Regions from separate parts of the Homo sapiens genome. Here region 1 is linked to region 2. Evidence: fine-mapped expression QTL. A gene starts in region 2. The other region holds a variant in brackets. All regions are shown on one strand. Distances are between the middles of the regions. Region 1 has its middle 46 kb from the start of RSPO4. Region 2 holds the start of ANGPT4 (angiopoietin 4).

What was found.
Region 1: its variant is fine-mapped to the expression of ANGPT4 in subcutaneous fat (FUSION, PIP 0.95).

What each region holds. Positions count from the first base shown.
Region 1 is chr20:1,046,441-1,049,345 of GRCh38, reverse strand. No RefSeq gene overlaps it. Among named protein-coding and RNA genes, the nearest start is that of RSPO4, 46 kb to the right of the region's middle. The variant G/T (reference allele first, on the strand shown) is at 1,280.
Region 2 is chr20:914,952-917,856 of GRCh38, reverse strand. It overlaps ANGPT4 (angiopoietin 4), which reads left to right and starts at 1,523. Exons shown (of 9, transcript NM_015985.4): 1 at 1,523-1,951. The coding sequence starts at 1,643. It overlaps LOC105372492 (a long non-coding RNA gene), which reads right to left. Exons shown (of 3, transcript XR_937185.3): 2 at 436-531.

The sequences.
Region 1 (2,905 bases), 130 kb before region 2:
TTTGGAAGATCCCTGAGAGGCCCCAGCTCATAGCCAAGCCTGGCTTGTCAAAGAGGAGTGTCTGGAAATTTCAGGACAGTGGGGAAATGGAACAGATGCTTAGCACGGAGGGTGTCATGGAGGCAGAGTCTGCCTGAGTCAGCGTTCTGGGTATCTAGTGCTGCGTTACCCATCACCCCTGAACACACTGGCATCAAACAGTCATTCATTGCATTCACATATTGTGTGGGGCAGGAATCCAGAAGGGCACAGTGGGTAGATTTGTCTGTGCTCCACGGTGTCTGGGGCCTCAGATGGAAGACTTGATGGCCAGGGGCTGGACTGATTCCCTCATGGGTCTGGTGGTTGATGCTGACTGTTGGCTGGGACCCCAGCTGGGTAAATGTCGGCCAGAACATTTACCTCTGGCTTTTCCAGGGGGCCTGGGCTTCCTTACACCGTGGTCGTCTGGTTCCCAGGGTGAGTGTCTCAAGACAAAGAGCCAGAGAGAAGCTGTATTGTCTTTTCTTACCCACCCTTGGAAGTTACACAGTCACCTCTGCTGCGTTCTATTCATCAAGGCAGTCACAAAGTCCTGCCAGTCTCCAGGGGAGGAGAAATAAACTCTCCCTCTTGATGGAGAGTGGCAGGGTTCATGAGGAGCAGGGGGCTGTGGCCATTTTTGGAAATGAAATCTGTTATACTCAGCCACCTGACAGATGGAGAAACAGAAGCACCTCCCTCCTTCCCAGGGGAATAACTTGTCTAGGCTCAGACAAGGAATATCCTTGTCTAGGGTATGGAAAGAACCCAGAGGATCATGTCTCCCAACCTGAGGCACAGAATTGGAGCTGGCCACTCCCATTTTCTGCCCTGGGAGACCCACTCTCCTCTTCCAGTCCAGGGCTCTGCAAAGACCAACCCTTTCCACACTTGGCTGGTGGCAGCTCCAATTGTGGTTGAGGGTGGTTGAGTCCACTTGCAGCTATGTTTCGCCTGCTATGGGATGGGTAGGTGGTCCTTGGAGAGTTCATTCTTCCTCAGCTTCTGGGCTGCTGACCTTCCCCCTACCCCATCATCTCTATCAAGGAGAGAGTGCTAGGGCCCAGCCTATTCCCCATCCAGCCACACACTGGGGTCTGACAGCCAGGGATGATCTGATTGGCTGAGCCCCAGTCAGGGACCGATCTCCAGCTCCATGAGCTAGGGCAGGGGAGGGGCCAGTTTATCAGATAAGTAGAGTTATCAGATAGGCATAAGTGGGAGGTTCTCAGGGAAGGAAGATTAGAAGCTAGACAGA[G/T]ACCCCTAAAGTGTTTACTAATATATATTGGCTTCTGCATTAGATTTTGTTTAATGGCTTGTGGGTTATTTGGTTTCCTTCACCTTCCACAAACAACCCATCAGCAAGCCCTTGAAAATATATCCAAACCCACTCTGTTCACTCACTCTTATGTCCCCAGCCTCATCCAGGCTAGGATGACTGCACCAGCTCCTCTCTGGTGTGTCCATTCCTGCCTCCTTCCAACTCATCTCTGCACAGTGGCCAGAGGGATCTTTTCCAAGTATGAACCACATGGTATTTCTTCCCTGCTGATGGCGCCACCTCCACTGGGGCCACTTGAAATACAGACTCCTGACTGAGGCCACTGCCTGCATGGTTCACCTCATTTCCTCCTCTTGTGCCATTTATTCTGGCCACATTGGTATCCTTTCTGTGCCAACATGCCAAGCTTGGTTCTGCCTTGAGCCTTTTGCACATGCTATTTCCTCTGCCTGCAATGTCCTAACCAGTTCATCACATGTCTTTTGGGTCTCACCTGAAGTTTATTTCTCACTCATGCAATGGATGTGCCAGGGCAATGAGTGGCTCTCCTCCATGTGGTGATGCAGGAATCCAGGCTCTTCTAATCTTGTGGCTCCTCTATCTTGGGGTCTTGCCATCATTTGAATTCAGCCAGGGGAAAAGTAACAAGAACATGGGGGAAGCTCCCTCACTTCTCAAAAGCTAGGCCTGGATGTGGCACTCATCACTTCTGCTCCCATTCTATTGGTAAGAGCTAGTCACATGGCCACACCTGCATGCAAATAGGGCTGGGAAATGTTGACCCTGCCTGGACAGCCACTTGTGGGCTTTGCCCACATACTAGCAAAGGGGAGAATGGACTTGGTGGACAATTAATGACCTTGACCATGATCACCTTCTCAGAGAGGCCCTTCCCAACCATCTCATCCAAAGAACGTCCCTTCCATCCTTGTACATCTCATACCACTCCTCAATTTTCTTCATATCACATTTTATCTACCTACTTATTTGTCTGTCTCTATCACTGTCTAGAAAGTAAGCTCTCTGAAAGCAGAAACCTTGTTTGGCTAGTTAATGCCATATTCCTGGCACCTAGACCAGTGCTTGGCCCACAGTATAACAGATGTTTAACAAATGCTTGTTCAATCCGTGACAGGACAGGCATAACTTCCATTTTACTCATGGGGATACAGAGGAGACCAGTGGCTCCATGAACAGAAAATGCTTTGCTCAAGGGCCTGGCATATAGCAGGAGCCCCATTCATGCCCATTCCTTTCCCTCCCCATTGTTGATGCTGAGGCTGTTTCAGGGAAAGGCTGGGCTATGGTCTGTGAGCCGGCCTGAGGTTTGAGTCTGGCTCTGTCCCGACTTCTGTGTGTCCCTCCTGTCTCCTGTATGGGCCTCAGTTTCCCAGCCTGCAAGAAGACAGCAGAGCAGATTGGGCCAGGCAAACTTTCACATTCCTTGTGGCCTGAGAGTAGACGACCACCCCAGAGACATCTGTACCTTCTTTTTCCAACAGCTGACCTTTGGGAGAAAGTTCTTCTCCCCTTTTTGCTCCCCGTCTGTGGGCTTAATAAGGCTTAATAAGGGGCCTGGATGGGCCCAGCCCCTCAGTGCCC
Region 2 (2,905 bases):
TTCACAGCTGCCCAGAAGCAGCCTGCCCCAATTCAAAACTCTATCGGGATTTGAGAGAACAAAAAGGAAAATACTAAACAGCCAGACTGGCCCCTACTCTGAGGAAACAAGCAGGGAGAGAGGAAAAGCCCAAACAGCTGGCAGAACATAAAGGCAGCCCATGCAGGAAAGGCCCCACCAACTCCTGGGCACCTTCTGCCTGGAGACCATGTCCCCCAGGGACAAATCCCTGCCCTAGAGGAGTTTATGCTCCAGTGGGTCGTGGGAGGGGAGGTGCAATGACAACTATAACATTGACAACGGAAAATATTTATTTAGTGCTCGCTCTGTGCCAACCTTGCTCTAACTCACCTAATTTTCATGCCATGTGAAGTAGGTGGTATTATTTTCCTCATTCAGGAGGAAATGAAGGCACAGAGAGGTTAAGTGACTTACTCAAAGTCATACAGCTGGTAGATGGTAGAGCCAGGATTTGAACCCAGAAGCTGAAAACTTCTCCATCCCCATGCTGAGGACTCACACGCATTCCTCCTGCAAGAGATAAGGTTTACCCAGTTTACAGATCAGGGTGTGGAGGCCCAGAGAGGCACAGCTGCCCACCCTAGGTCTCGTGGCCAGCTGTCGGGGAGCGAGATCTAGGGTTAGCCTCCTGGCACTCCAACCTCCTCTCCCCACTGCCTCCTCTCCACATCCCCACTCCAGCAGCCCCAGGACAATCTGCCCCAGGACATGACAACTTCTCATTACTGTTACAAGCAACCAAGCCAGGGCCATCCTGGGGCATACCACTTTCCCCTGGCCCTGAGGGAGAAGAGAGGACAGGAAGCAACTCCCAGCTGGGTTGCTCACTTGCCCCACCTTGGAAGGATTTTCTGTGTCTCCAGAGGCAAAGTGGATTCGCTGGGCCCTCCCCAGCCTCACCCCTCTGCCTCCTCCCCTCCCTCTGCTCTCTCCGGGGGTCACTTGTACTCCAAGCGCTAACATGGAACCAGAGGGAGGAAGGTGCAGCGGGGAGAGAAGGGGATGGCAGCGGGACTGAAACTTGAGATCTTAGACTTGGGGGGCAGGGGATGGGGGTGGAGGGAAAGAGGGAGACCAAGACAGAGACAGGAAGGGAGAGTTAAGTTGCATTTGGTTTTCCAAAGCGGGCAGCATTGGAGCTTGGCGTTTGTGTGTACATGAATGTGTGTGCGTGTCAGCGTGCGTGTGAGTGTGTGCTCGTGAGTGTGTGCATGAGTGTGTGCGCGTGTCTGTGTGCTGTTTTCTTCCCTCCCCTCCAGCAGGGAAGCCAGGCCTCACTGGATAATCAGAGGGCTCAGAGGTGAGGCAGACAGAGCAAGGTTGGTGCACGCTTAGGGTAAGGGCGACGTGCCACCAAGACTGAGGAAGGAGGAAGGGAAGGAGTGAAGAATAGAGGTGAGAGGGTGTCGGGTGGGGCCGGAGGGAGGCGGTGAGAGGAAGCAAGCAGAGCAGCCGTGGTATTCAGAGCAAGTATAAATAGCTGCCTGGACAGAGCTCGGCCAGACAGAGGTTTGTAGCTGCAGCTGCAGGCAAGCCTGGCCACTGTTGGCTGCAGCAGGACATCCCAGGCACAGCCCCTAGGGCTCTGAGCAGACATCCCTCGCCATTGACACATCTTCAGATGCTCTCCCAGCTAGCCATGCTGCAGGGCAGCCTCCTCCTTGTGGTTGCCACCATGTCTGTGGCTCAACAGACAAGGCAGGAGGCGGATAGGGGCTGCGAGACACTTGTAGTCCAGCACGGCCACTGTAGCTACACCTTCTTGCTGCCCAAGTCTGAGCCCTGCCCTCCGGGGCCTGAGGTCTCCAGGGACTCCAACACCCTCCAGAGAGAATCACTGGCCAACCCACTGCACCTGGGGAAGTTGCCCACCCAGCAGGTGAAACAGCTGGAGCAGGCACTGCAGAACAACACGCAGTGGCTGAAGAAGGTACGGGGCATGGGAGGTTTGCAGGGGGCAGAGGGCGGCTTTGGGGTCTGTCACAATCAGCAGGTGGAGTGTCCATCCAAGAGGCCTTCCCTGAGCACAGAGGGCTGTCTCTGAGCTGCACAAAGAGGGGCAGGGGTGGGTCTGAGGCCACACAGCAAGATTGGGCAATGTCAGCTGGCAACCTGGCTCTTTAACTGCCGTCCCTTCATTCATCCAACAGAAATCCATTCAGCCCTGACCAAGGGCTGAACGGACCAAGCCTTCCTGGGTGCTGGGGATACGACAGTATAGTATGTCTCCCTCTGGACTAGTAGGGGAAAGAGGCAGTAAGAGATAATCTACTATGTCAGATGGTGAAGCAAAATGAAGAAGAAAGAGGGCAAGTGGCGGCCCTGGGTGGCTGCTTGAGGTCAGATCATTAGAGAGTACTTCTCAGAGGAGGTGACATTTGAACCCAGAGAACAAGGGAAATGATAGAGTGGGCCAGGCAGGTATTTGAGGGAACGTTCTGCAAAGGGAGCTGCATGTATTTTGACCGTGAGGAGGGAATGCATCCGCAGCGGTGTGTGCCTGGAGAACCATGGGGCGAAGGCCTGTGTAGCTGGAGCAGAGGAGAGGGAGCAAGGGTGCGGGGAGGTCTGAGAGGTGACAGCAGGGCAGGCCATGCAGCTGGGGGGGGGGCCACTGGAAGGACTTCAGCTTTTGTTCTGAGTGTCATGGGAGCCACTGCAAGGTTGTGAGCAGAGACAGACACCCGTGATTCGATTTCAACAGCATAGACTGTAGGAGGCAGGGTGGAAGGAAGAAGCCCAAAGAGGTGGCCGCTGCAGCCATCAGGTGCAAGGTACCGGAGGCCTGGAGCAGAACGGGGCTAGGAGGGGGTGTGGCCAGTAAGATTCTGGTGGGTTCTGGAGGTAGAGCCCATCAGCTCTGCTGGTGAATTGGATGCGGAGT